Linked DNA regions of Homo sapiens. The protein of the gene in region 1 interacts with the protein of each later gene in a pairwise test. Each region holds a gene or a part of one and is shown in the gene's direction. Other genes may lie near its edges.

Region 1 (3,500 bases):
TTTTGTAGTTTTAGTAGAGACGGGGTTTCACCATGTTGACCAGGCTGGTCTTGAACTCCTGACCTCGTGATCCACCTGCCTCGGCCTCCCAAAGTGTTGGGATTAGAGGTGTGAGCCATTGCCCCTTGGGAGACTGTCTCTTAAAAAAGAAATCCTAAAATGACTGAATTTGGATGTATGGAGATGGTCAGGAATTTCTAAGTATATGTATACGTACATACATCTTAATGATATAATGTTTGTAAGTGCTAAATTACGACTCATGGCCAGGGGCTGTGACGTACAAGCCTGTAATCCCAGGGCTTTGGGGAGCCAAAGCAGGAGGATCACTTGAGGTCAGGAGTTTGAGATCAGTCTGGGCAAGATAGCAAGACTGTCTCTACCAAAAAAAAAAAAAAAAATTATGTCCTGTTAATCGTTTTTATCCCTGAATGTTGTTATTGTTGTATCAACGTTTGGCAAACTCTACTAAACTGGCTGATTTTTCTCCTGGCACCTGACACTCTGGTGAACAATTTTCGAATTGAAGCTATTGAAACAAATTAAACTGTTGTGGTTATTTTGGTTTTCTCTTAAAGACTTTTAAATCCAAAACCAGATAGTCATCACTTGTCATAGTTAATGACTTGCCTCTAGTAATTCCTTTTGTCTGGCTGCTTTTAAGAAAAGTGAAATATTTTTAATTCATTGCTTTACAAGTTGTTTAAACTAACTTTTCAGAAACAGGTCCATTTACTGCCTTTCATAAGCTAATGAAGTTTTTTTATAATATAGTTTAAAGACTTTGCTTTAGAGGAATTTGCTTTTGAAATAAATATAGCTCCTGGCTGATTAGACTGAGAAGACACAAGCATAGCTTTCATTAGCTGTCCTTGGATAGCTTTTGTAATCCATTGATTAAAGATTTAAGGTGACCTTTTATGCTTGTGGTTCTCAGCTTTGTTGGACCTTTTGTGACTAATCTTCAGTTTTGTAACTTGAGTATTCTACAAGCTTAGTGTTCTTAGTCATTCTGTTTAGGCCACCATAAAGCTTGTGTAGAGTGTCTTTGAAGGATGATTTGAAAAGGTAGTGTCTTTAAAAAATTTCTAAGTGAATTATTATTTTTTTTTTGAATTTCAGTGTGTAAAGGTTGCCATAAAGGACAAACAAGTGAAATACTTCATACATTACAGTGGTTGGAATAAAAAGTGAGTATTAGATCTTACAATTCTATTTGTAATTAACAAGATAGCTTGTGTCACTGACTGGCTTAGCAAGCATATGCTTTTCAATTCTGCAGTTTTAATGTAATATAGTACATATTGAAGCAAAGGTGAATCATTTGTAGTATGACAAAACTATTAGAAATTAGGGTACTGAGCCATTTTAATTTAAATATACTTGGATCTTGGGAATATTTGTTATGTTCTAGTGTAATATCTATTAGTCATATAGTCAATCAATTATTCTGGTTGAATGTGGCAATCACATTTTTCTGTTTTTTTTTTTTTCCTGGTTTTGGTACATTTTTAGGATGGCCTGAATTATTTGGCCTTACCACAAACATGTTGATTATATATGTTATTTCAAGCAGCTGTGCTAAAAAAAACTAGTTGGGTTTTCTGTCTAGAAAAGGGGAAAGGATAAAGGTTGCTTGATTGGGAAATAAAGACAGAATTTACCAGTCCATATTCTGAACTTTGGAAACATTATTTAGTGTTGACCGAAAATGACTTCATGTGACTCACTTTTTAGCATGGTTTAACACAGAAACATTCAATTATAGAGTCTTAATTTCTCACCCCTAAGAGTTAAGCCTTTTTTTTTTTTTTTTTTTGAGAGATGGAGTTTTGCTTTCGTTGCCCAGGCTGGAGTGTGCAATGGTGTGAGCTCGGCTCACTGCAACCTCCGCCTCAGGGGTTCAGGTGATTCTCCTGCCTCAGCCTCCTGAGTAGCTGGGATTACAGGCACCTGTCACCATGCCCAGCTAATTTTTTGTATTTTTAGTAGAGACGGAGTTTCACCACATTGGCCAGGCTGTCTTGAACTCTTGACCTCAGGTGATCCACCCGCCTCGGCCTCCCAAAGTGCTGGGATTACAGGTGTGAGCCACTGCCCGGCCTTTTTGTGTGTGTGTGTGTGTATGTAAAGTACCGATGTTATTGATCTTGTTCTAGGAATGGACAGTGGGTATAGATTGAACACATTCTAGAATGTCCATCCAGTGGAGCTGTTTTTCAGTGATGGGACTTTTCTCCTTGGGCCTCACAAATAACCCTGTCTAAAAATTTACCCAAGTCTCCTATTTGGTGATTGTAATGAAAAGACTTGTAATTTTTACTATGGGAGGTTTTACATTTTATTAATGATGCCTTGTCCTTCAAAGATAGCACTGCCATTGCTATTTAGTATTGTTCTTGTGGAATTGTCCTCTAGTAACTTAAGGCTTTGTGTCACCTGACTCAGGCTCTTTTACCTGGTTTACTATGGGATCAGTGCCATCTGATTTGATGAGTATTCTGTTACTATGGAAGGAGTTTATTTTTCCTGTGAAGTTCACTGGCCCTGTGACTTTGGTCTTGTTTCATCTAGTACTCTATCCAGGTGACCAACCCAGTTAATTTTATTTCTTTGTTAGGAAGTTGTTTTCACGTATCAGATGTTTTCAGCTGAGAATTTATCAGACCTTTTACTTCCATTAATATAAATGTGGAAAGGTAGAAATCTGAAATGCATAGAAGTGCATCCTGACAACTTGTGGGTATTTTTTTCCCAGTTAATGATAATTAAAGTATTTCTAATCAGTGAGGTGTGGTGGTGTGCACCTGTAGCTACTTGGAAGGCTGAGGCAGGAGGATTACTTGAGCCCAGGAGTTTGGGGCTGCAGTGAGCTATGATGTGCCACTGCACTCTAGCCTGAGTGACAGAGCAAGATCTGGACTCCTTTAAAAAGAAACAACAACATGTATTTCTAATAATGATAGGTAATATTTAATAATGATAGGTAACTCCAACCTCATGGACTTGTATTTTAAATATTGAGAAGTTGGGAAAATAATGGAGAAAACTGTCTTGGTAGAAGTAAACTGTGCTTTTAGTACTAAATGGATTCTAATATCTAGGAAACAGGAAAATAGTGACTCCTAGTGTATCTCATAGCTTTTTATTACTAAACAATGCCTTGCTAAAACTGCATTTCAATCTTTATTAGACTTATATTTTGTGTGTTGATATTCTGACAATATCCAGATAAAGTTGAGAGTGTTAGGAGAATTTCATTTCTCTACAGGAAAGATAACATCTTAATTTTATGCATACTATGAGTGGGAAAGACCATATAGGATATCAAAAAAAAACACAAAGCAAATTTATGGTTTAGGCTTAATCTCCTCCATCTCCTGCATTTTAAAGGAATTGTTTTAGAGCCAGTATGGTGGTGCCTATAGTTTTAGCTTCTTAGGGAGGCTGAGGTTGAGCCCAGGAGTTTGAGGCCAGCCTGGGCAACATAGGTAGACACC
Region 2 (3,500 bases), on another chromosome or scaffold:
AGCCATCTTAGGAATAGCTTAGTTTTTGACAGAAGTAAATACCAAGGTAATTAAATTTTTAAGTTCTGAGTATTAGAGGTAATGGTTACTGTAGCTCCTAAAATGCACATCACATCTCTGGTAGGTGCTGGAACCCTCATGGTACTGCTGCTTTTAATTTTGCTTTTGGAATGTTTCTTTGTAGCTGAAGCTTTAGTGATGAGAAGTTAGAAATACTCTCATTGACCTTTAGTGTTTTGTCCTGTGATATATATCAAGTCGCTTAGTTTGACATTGTTGAACTTATTTCCTAAGCAAAAAACAGCAGAAGAAGAAAATCCAGAACATGTAGAAATTCAGAAGATGATGGATTCCCTCTTCTTAAAATTGGATGCCCTCTCAAACTTCCACTTTATCCCTAAACCGGTAAGTGTGTTAACAGTTCAGTGTGTAGCTAGAGCAGGGTGACCTTCATAGCTTTGATCCTTTGTGAGACTAGCTCTTTATTTTGTTTCAGGATACAAACTTGTAGTTTGCTGTAAATTCCAGGCAGGGTCTCCATGAGGAAAGCTCACTTCTGGTCCCATGACAGTTCTGGCTCTACCCAGATCTTCAGTGAGCCCCTGCCAGCTGGGGCTGGGCATGGTCAGGCATCATGCTAGTACTGCCTCTTACTGTTTTAACTTACCTCACACTTTAAAAGATCCTCAGCCGTAGCCACAGGGACTCCTCCTTTCCCTACCCTCTCAGTCTTCTGTTGCATTTTCATTGTATAATGGGTTTGGAGATGTATGGATATCTATACCAGCATTTATGGAGTATCTGCTATGTGTCATATTAGGTTCTTTACATACACTAACACTTAATGCACACAACACTGAGGCAGGTACTATAGTTTCCATTTCACAGGGGAGAAAACCAAGGTTTAGGAGGTGGGAGAGTGAGAACTAACTCTGGGCCCAGCTGTCTCCGCATGATGTTCCTTCACCAGGCCCAGCCCTCTCAAATGCTCCTCCCCTGTCTGTCTGTCACCCAGACTTGGCTCTACCTGTCTATTCCTTGGAGCCTCATCTCCTGCTTACCAGCTTCTGTGAACCCATAAAACATGCTTGTACCATCCTTTGGTACTTGTTCACCTGTTGCCCTTTGGTGCCTGTGTTGTTGTCTGAAATGGAATGTCATGAATTAAAGACTAGTCTAGAAGTCAGAACCTGAGCTGAGTTCTGCTCCTAACTAGCTTTATGATGCAGGCAATCGCTTTACGTTTCATTTGTACCGAAGAGCTAATCTCCAAGATCCTTTATTATTAGTTGATGGCTAGGTGATTCCCATGCAAATATTTTATCTTCTCAGACAGTAAGCTTTTTTAACCTGGTTGTTTTTTTTTGTTTGTTTGGTTTTTTTTTTGGTATATATGTATGCTTTTAATCCAGTTGTAATTACATGCAAGTAAGTTCTTGATGGCAGGAACCATCTTTAGATTCCCAAAGTCCCTGCTATGGGCTGTGTAAAATAAACAGGTGAAGAGATGAGTGGAATTTCTCAACTCCTCTTGTCCAGCAGGTCTTACTGAGATGAAGGACGTGGGCCTTTCTGGGCCTTACCTGTGTGATCTGGCTCTTCCCACCCCTTTGGTCTCCCTTGGCTTGCTACCCCCACCCCCACTGATCTTCTGATTCCTTGAGCAGGCCAAGTCCCTTGCGCTTTCTCACTGTGCTCTTCCCCTGGCCCAGTAGGCTGCACTTCCTTTTTGGCATGGCTGGCTCCTTATTGCCCAGGCTAGACGCCTTTCCCTCCTTGCAGATGTTCCTTGGCTCCTTACCTAGGGTAGACTCCCCTTCCCACCTTGCTGCATGTCTCACCACTTGGCTCCTTTTCCTCATAGCTGCATTGCACATTTGCAGTCATTCGCTAGTTGTTCATTGCTCTCTACTTGTCTTCAGGCAGCACGAAATGCATCTACTGTTCCACTCTGTTCCTCGCACTAGCTAGGATCTAACACACGGAAGCCTTTAGACATTCCTTGGAATACTGGGAAGTGAAGGAGAAGTGAATGTATATGTGTCTATGTGCCCAAATGAAAAGCCTTTCTTTTTTCCCTTAAGAAATGTAGAATTGCTAGTGTAGGTTCCCCTTGATATTACTTTTTTCATGTTCAGGTTGGTATTTCACACCATCTCTGTAGACTCCATTTACTAATCACAGCCATTATTTTTTGTGGCTTTTTTTTTTTTTTTTTTTGAGACAGAATCTCACTGTGTTGCCCAGGCTGGAGTGCAGTGGCATGATCTTGGCTCACTGCAACCTCTGCCTCCCAAGTTTAAGCGATTCTCCTGCCTCGGCCTCCCGAGTAGCTGGGACTACAGGCATGCACCACCACGGCTGGCTAATTTTTTTGTATTTTTAGTAGAGACGGGGTTTCACCATGTTAGCCAGGCTGGTCTCAAACTCCTGACCTCAAATGATCTGCCCACCTTGGCCTCCCAAAGTGCTGGGATTACAGGCGTGAGTTACCGTGCCCAGCATTTTGTGGCTTTTTGGACTGTCTTCTTTTTCTCCATATTTCTCTTTAAACACTAGAATGGAACACAGTGTTTTTAATAACAGTTGAACAGTGGTCCAGTGGAAGAAATGATTTCTTTCACACTCTCATTTTTCTCTCACTTAGAATCCAGGATCCTATTGTGTTTATGGCTTGTTTTTGTTCTTTGTGAAGTTTCCTTGAGCAAATAACTCCATGGACAGGATGGTGATAAGGAAGAAAGAATGCTAATGTAACTGCAATATATAGTCACCATTTTAGTTGCAGGATCAGTATGAAACCTGTTTTAATTACTGGATTTCTTGGGTAGTTCTTTCAAAAAAAGACAAAAATCTGAAGCAGATGGTCCTTCAATTAACATTGCATTCTTTCCCCCTTTTTGTAATTGATAGCTTTGATTTATTTTGATACTGTTTGAGTTTTTCAGTATTATTTCATATTTGTTTATAGAGATGTTTTCAGTAGTTGAAAGATGAGGAAATTTATCAGTAGTCTATTTTTGACTCTTGTTCCCGTAAGCATCTTTCCTTGCATCTTTTTCCATATACTTCTTAGAGCTAGCTTTTTTTTCTGTAAGCAAAGTCAAGATAATATTAATAGAGATCAGTAAATCTTACCAAACAGCATTAATGGTTGTTTGAGAATGTCCACATGCATGGTAGATAGGAATAGTTGAGGAAGAGATGGAAGAACTGATGTTTGAAGATGGCAGAAATGTTATGTAAAAATGTAGAAAACGCCGGGTGTGGTGGCTCATGCCTGTAATCCCAGCACTTTGGGAGGCCGAGGCGGGCAGATCACGAGGTCAGGAGATCCAGATCATCCTGGCTAACACGGTGAAACCCCATCTCTACTAAAAATACAAAAAATTAGCCAGGTGTGATGGCAGGCGCCTGTAGTCCCAGCTACTCGGGAGGCTGAGGCAGGAGAATGGCATGAACCCTTAAGAGGGAGCTTGCAGTGAGCCGAGATAGCGCCA
Region 3 (3,500 bases), on another chromosome or scaffold:
GAGCAGTAATTTCACAGCAAAGAGAGCTGAGATGTGGGGAGGTTAAGTGACCTTGCCAAGGTCGCAGGCAAACGCATGCTGGAGCCAGCATTCAAAACGAGATTAGTCTCACACTCAAGTGCTTGCTCTCTGCCCCCTCCCTGTGATTACATGCTCATTGTAACACCTGATGTTGCCTAATGCCTTCCCCTTTTGTTAATGTCAACTGGAGCCTCGTAAAGACCCTGAGTAGCCAGGATGTGTACACTTTATCTCCATGAGACAGAGAAAGGACTGAGGTTTGGAGATGTTAAAAAGACTCGCCTAAACACCCTCGGCAAGCTAATGGAAGAGGATCTGAATCTAGATTATCTGTTCCCAGTGCAGTGAGAAGATGATCTCAGAATGAGTTCCCTGGGGGAACATTTTTTAATCGGAATTTTCATTGACATAATTAAAGACTAGTACACAGTTGTCTTTAATAACGAGCGTTTACACACGGTGCCTAGTTTCTCCCGAGGGCAACATTTGCAAAATTAGTACTATATCAAAACCAAGATTGGACATCAATACAATCAATCTATGATCTTATTCAGATTTGCCCACAATTGCACCATGTGTATGTGAAACTCTAAACAACTTTAACCTGTGGAGGTTCACGTATCCATCACCACAGTCTACATACTGAAAAGATCCCAAACCACAAGGATCCCCGCTGTGTGCTTTGATTTATTTATTTAGAGACAAGTTCTCACTCATTTGTCCAGGCCAGTCTCTTGGGGTGCCCAAAGACCTTTTGTCCAGGTCTCACTTTTGTCCAGCACACATGGAATGGGTGTGGTGGCTCACGCCTGTAATCTCAGCACTTCGAGAGGCTGAGGCAGGAGGATCCCTTGAGCCTGGGAGTTCGAAACAGCCTGGGCAATGTGGCAAAATCCCAGCTTTACTAAAAATACAAAAATTAGTCGGGCATGGTGGTGCACAACTATAGTCCCAGCAACTCAGGAGGCTGAGGTGGGAGAATCGCTTGAGCCCAGAAGGTTGAGGCTGCAGTGAGGCTTTGTGCAGTGAAGATTTGTACAGTGCTGAACAGATCCTGTGGAGTGGGGGTGGGCAGAGTGGATGGAAAGGTTGAGAAACTGCAGACATTGTCTTGAGTGTCACAAATGGAAATGCAGCATCCCAGGCAGTATTGCCTGTTCAGGGGCAAGGAACGAAGTGGACATCAGCAGGTGGCCTTGCTGCCATGTGGGTGTCACTATCTCCCCCAGCAGGGGAGAAAACAGGCTTTTTGTTGCAGGTCACACAGCTCATGAGGGGTGGAACTAGATTCACCCTAGGCCTCGCTGATCTCTGTACAACGGGGGCCAGAGCTCTTCTGAGGAAGGCAGGCTTCCCTTTGTACCTGCACTGACTTTTTTCTCCTTTTGGAGGGAGAGCAGAGACCATGTCTGACATAGAAGAGGTGGTGGAAGAGTACGAGGAGGAGTGAGTATCTGGAGCATCTTGCCTGAGTGGGGTCCTCTCCCGCCGCTGCCCTGACACCTGGTCCAGGAGCCTCCCAGCTGTCCCTCGGATTCTGGGTAGAAGTAGCTGTGTGTGTTTTGGGCACCCCGAGGAGAGATATAGCCATTTCCTTTCCACTCCTGTACCCCTGGGTTGTAGATCCCAGGCAGAGCACAGGCCGAGAGACTTCGGGAAGCACAGAGGTTCAGCTCCAGGGTCATCAGTGTCCTTGGCCAGTCTTGGCTAGGGGCCATGAACAGAGAAGCTGAGATGTTGGGTCTCCTGAAACTGACTGAGGAAGGTTCAGTGACTCTCCAGAGGCACAGAGCTGATTATGCCCCCCAAACCCCAGCTCAGAACCCAGTGTTATCACCCTGTCTTGGATCCCTACTCTCTCATGACAGTGCCCTGCCCACAGTCCTATCCCAGAGGGAAACCAGGGGGTGGGACACAGCCAATCCAATAACTACAGAGGATAGTGGTCACCAGGGAGGAGACAGAGGTATAGGCACGGCTACTGCCCTCACAGAACTTACTCTTGTTGAGATGTTAAGACATAAACTGGGAGAAGAAATTAGCAACTGGGGGCCTGGTGTGGAGGGCGGGCTGTTGGTAGTGTAGGAGTTCTGAGGAGAGGGAGATCAGGGGCTGGAATAGTCAGGGGGCTGTGTGGAGAAGGCAGGTCTTACCTGTGTAGAATTTGGAAAGATAAGAGATTTGGGAGAGGGCAGGACTTTCTAGAAAGGGGTACAGCTTGGGCAAAGATGGAAAGAGTAAGTGAGCAGAACGCTGGTGAGACCAAGCTGGCTGGGGCGGAGGCTTGCGGAGGATGGTAGGAGGCAGCCCTGCATGAGAACGGCAGGCCAGGCTAGTGGGTGTCATTGCAAGGTGGGCAGGGCAGCGTGGACTCCACTAGGCAACAAGGGAAAAGAAAGGGGGATTATCTTTGGGGAAAGGCCAGTGTGTGCATGTGTGTGCAGGCGTGTGTGTTTGCATGTGCTTGTGTGCGAGCTACTGACAGTGTTTCCTGTTGCTCTCAGGGAGCAGGAAGGTAAGCGTAAACGTGTGTACTCATTTGGATCAAAGACAGCCTGGTTCGAAACTGACCCACCTCTTCTCTCTTCTCTTGCTGCCTGGACTTCTCTTCTGAGCAGAAGCAGCTGTTGAAGGTATGTGCCTCAGGCAGGTGGAGAGCCAGAAAGGGGCAGGCTCAGCAATGTGGAAATCCTGGGAGCCCTGGGAAAGCAGCTCATCTGTCCCTGCTCCTCACTCTCAGCTGAGCAAGATCCTCCAACAACAGTGCCTTCTAAAATGGGAATCAGTCCTACCTGGGTTGCTCGGGTCTTGAGGCAAACGATTTAAACCTGTCTCTTCTGTCTGCCATTTGCTTCAAACACACTGATCACTTTTCCCAATTTTTTTTGCTTCTTCTCCCTTTTATCATGGGAAATTTTAAATGCACATAAAGGTAGCAATAATAATAATAATGGCCCCCCCTGCCCAAGGTACCCATTACCAGCTTCAACAATCATCATCTTAGGGCCAGTCTTCTTTCCTCTATACTCCACCTTCCACCAGTTATTTTGGAGCAGACATCCAAAATTGTTCCCAGGCACCATGTCAGTTCACGCTTCAAGATTTCGCTACACCGTATCTCTAAGAGATAAGCACTACTTAAAAACCATAACCACAATGCCATGATATGCCCCAAAAGATTCCATTTAGTAATTTCTCAAATGCGATTGTGAGTATGAAATTGCTCAGTGATCTGAGACGTCTTATCTCGGCATGAAGATTTGTCATGATTCTGAGCTTGCAGAGGCCCCTCTTGCTGCTCCTATGCTGATCGGTTAACCCATCGCCCTCCTCAGCTGTGGGTCCCACATCTCCCTGAAAGAACGCCCTCACCTTCCCTTCTTCCTGAGAGCTTGGCACATGGAAATGACTCAGAGGCTTCACTCCAGTCCTCCCCCTGCACCCCAGGCAGGTGGACCCTGCCTTTTAGTGGCTCAGGT
Region 4 (2,917 bases), on another chromosome or scaffold:
GAGGCGGAATTTGCAGTGAGCTGAGATCCCGCCACTGCACTCCAGCCTGGTGACAGAGTGAGACTCTGTCTAAAAAAAAAAAAAAAAAAAAAAAAAAAATATATATATATATATATATATAATAGTTTAAATATAATTCATTCTTATTTCACTTAGCATGTTGTGAGAACTTTTTCTCATGTATAATCTTATTTATCATTTACTTAAATGTTCTAGTAGGTATTAACATTATTTTTCAATTTTTCATAATTACAAGTAATGCTATAGTCAATATAGCATTTCTCTTAATGATAAATTCCTAAGAGTGGGATCACTGAATTAAATGGCTTGAACATTTTTATGTGTCTTGGTATGTTTTACCAACTTGATTTATTAAATTTCTTATAGGCTTTTGCCAATTTATATTGCTAACCAACAATTTTATATGAATAGGCTGGTTTCACTCCAGTCTCACTGGCATTGGAGACCCATTCTTTCATTATTGCAAGTTCCTTCTAAGGGAGCATATTGCTTCTTCTAGTATAGCTAAAAGTCAGATGTTTAGATGTTAGATTTGTGAAGTGTGGAGTTAGAGAATGGCCTAAATCAGGACGTGTCAGCTATTCATTGAGTTCAAAAGATACACTAGTGTGTTACAGAATGATGACAAAAATGATCTCTGGGACTTTGCTAGATGTCTAACCTTAGCTCTTAAGTGCTTCAGAGGGTAATCAGCTTAAAACTAGCCATCTAAAAAGATGCCTTCTTTTTTCCCACCTCTCTTAAAAATATGTCTGAACTTTGAAGTGAGTTTACTGGGACCTGTGACCACTCCTGAACATCAGCTTCTCAAGACTCCTTCATCTAGTTCCCTGTCACAGAGAGTCCGTTCCACCCTCACCAAGAACACTCCTAGGTATGCAGAATTGGCCTTCCTAGGAAATAAAAAACAACTACTTTCTTAGACTTCTTATTATATTGAAGCTTATTGAAAGAAAAATTGCATTCGATTTTAGCTAGCAACTAGACTTTAAAAGGGAACGTGGGGCTATAAGGATTCCTTCTTTAAAAAGGTTCTGAAAGTCTTTACTATTTCCCCTCTCTCGTTGTTGGTGACTAAGAATACTTAAGCAACTATTGCAAAATAGTTGTCTAGGGTTTCCTACTTATAATGGGTTATATCAAGTAATATTATAGTTGTTTATTCAACCATTTTTTATAGAATATTTTTCCAGTTCATTCTCTTTTTATTGTAGATTTGGGAGCAAAAGCAAGTCTGCCACTAACCTAGGACGACAAGGCAACTTTTTTGCTTCTCCAATGCTCAAGTGAAGTCACATCTGCCTGTTACTTCCCAGCATTGACTGACTATAAGAAAGGACACATCTGTACTCTGCTCTGCAGCCTCCTGTACTCATTACTACTTTTAGCATTCTCCAGGCTTTTACTCAAGTTTAATTGTGCATGAGGGTTTTATTAAAACTATATATATCTCCCCTTCCTTCTCCTCAAGTCACATAATATCAGCACTTTGTGCTGGTCATTGTTGGGAGCTTTTAGATGAGACATCTTTCCAGGGGTAGAAGGGTTAGTATGGAATTGGTTGTGATTCTTTTTGGGGAAGGGGGTTATTGTTCCTTTGGCTTAAAGCCAAATGCTGCTCATAGAATGATCTTTCTCTAGTTTCATTTAGAACTGATTTCCGTGAGACAATGACAGAAACCCTACCTATCTGATAAGATTAGCTTGTCTCAGGGTGGGAAGTGGGAGGGCAGGGCAAAGAAAGGATTAGACCAGAGGATTTAGGATGCCTCCTTCTAAGAACCAGAAGTTCTCATTCCCCATTATGAACTGAGCTATAATATGGAGCTTTCATAAAAATGGGATGCATTGAGGACAGAACTAGTGATGGGAGTATGCGTAGCTTTGATTTGGATGATTAGGTCTTTAATAGTGTTGAGTGGCACAACCTTGTAAATGTGAAAGTACAACTCGTATTTATCTCTGATGTGCTGCTGGCTGAACTTTGGGTTCATTTGGGGTCAAAGCCAGTTTTTCTTTTAAAATTGAATTCATTCTGATGCTTGGCCCCCATACCCCCAACCTTGTCCAGTGGAGCCCAACTTCTAAAGGTCAATATATCATCCTTTGGCATCCCAACTAACAATAAAGAGTAGGCTATAAGGGAAGATTGTCAATATTTTGTGGTAAGAAAAGCTACAGTCATTTTTTCTTTGCACTTTGGATGCTGAAATTTTTCCCATGGAACATAGCCACATCTAGATAGATGTGAGCTTTTTCTTCTGTTAAAATTATTCTTAATGTCTGTAAAAACGATTTTCTTCTGTAGAATGTTTGACTTCGTATTGACCCTTATCTGTAAAACACCTATTTGGGATAATATTTGGAAAAAAAGTAAATAGCTTTTTCAAAATGAACATGAGGCTGGTTTTCTTGTCTTGCAAGGTAATTTTCAATGCCTTTTAGAAAATCATTTCTGGGGCTGGGCTTGGTGGCTTATGCCTCTAATCCCAGCACTTTGGGAGGCCAAGATAGGTGGATCACCTGAGGTCAAGAGTTTGAGATATGGCCAAACTCTGTCTCTACAAAAAATACAAAATTAACTGGGCGTGGTGGTGCACACCTGTGGTCCCAGCTACTTGGGAAGCTAATGTGGGAAAATTGAGCCTGGGAGGCAGAGGTTGCAGTGAGCTGAGATCGTGCCACTGCACTCCAGCCTGGGTGACAGAGTGTGAGACCCTGTCACAAAAAAAAAAAAAGAAAAAATTACTTCCTTCAAAGTGTCTTGACTCTGTTGTTCATCCCCATTTCCCACTCTCTGGACCCACCCCAGGCTTACCACCACCGGGAGTTTGTTTCTTCATTTCTCATCCAGTCTCTCTTTGTCCAAACTGGAGTTGTAGAGTTGTCCTATGCC

The links.
Region 2: the proteins of MORF4L1 (region 1) and MPHOSPH10 interact in binary tests that used the Homo sapiens proteins (3 or more experiments, as listed by UniProt).
Region 3: the proteins of MORF4L1 (region 1) and TNNT2 interact in binary tests that used the Homo sapiens proteins (3 or more experiments, as listed by UniProt).
Region 4: the proteins of MORF4L1 (region 1) and RACGAP1 interact in binary tests that used the Homo sapiens proteins (3 or more experiments, as listed by UniProt).

Annotation. Positions count from the first base shown.
Region 1 is NC_000015.10:78,879,390-78,882,889, forward strand, and holds part of MORF4L1 (mortality factor 4-like protein 1), read left to right. Parts: intron 1-1,122; coding exon 1,123-1,190; intron 1,191-3,500. UniProt on the Homo sapiens protein: Component of the NuA4 histone acetyltransferase (HAT) complex which is involved in transcriptional activation of select genes principally by acetylation of nucleosomal histones H4 and H2A.
Region 2 is NC_000002.12:71,144,134-71,147,633, forward strand, and holds part of MPHOSPH10 (U3 small nucleolar ribonucleoprotein protein MPP10), read left to right. Parts: intron 1-294; coding exon 295-405; intron 406-3,500. UniProt on the Homo sapiens protein: Component of the 60-80S U3 small nucleolar ribonucleoprotein (U3 snoRNP). Required for the early cleavages during pre-18S ribosomal RNA processing. Part of the small subunit (SSU) processome, first precursor of the small eukaryotic ribosomal subunit.
Region 3 is NC_000001.11:201,371,181-201,374,680, reverse strand, and holds part of TNNT2 (troponin T, cardiac muscle), read left to right. Parts: intron 1-1,279; exon of another isoform or gene 1,280-1,412; 5' UTR 1,413-1,426; coding exon 1,427-1,467; exon of another isoform or gene 1,468-1,562; intron 1,563-2,525; coding exon 2,526-2,536; intron 2,537-2,639; coding exon 2,640-2,654; intron 2,655-3,500. UniProt on the Homo sapiens protein: Troponin T is the tropomyosin-binding subunit of troponin, the thin filament regulatory complex which confers calcium-sensitivity to striated muscle actomyosin ATPase activity.
Region 4 is NC_000012.12:49,988,662-49,991,578, reverse strand, and holds the end of RACGAP1 (rac GTPase-activating protein 1), read left to right. Parts: intron 1-786; coding exon 787-895; intron 896-1,235; coding exon 1,236-1,311; 3' UTR 1,312-2,417; downstream 2,418-2,917.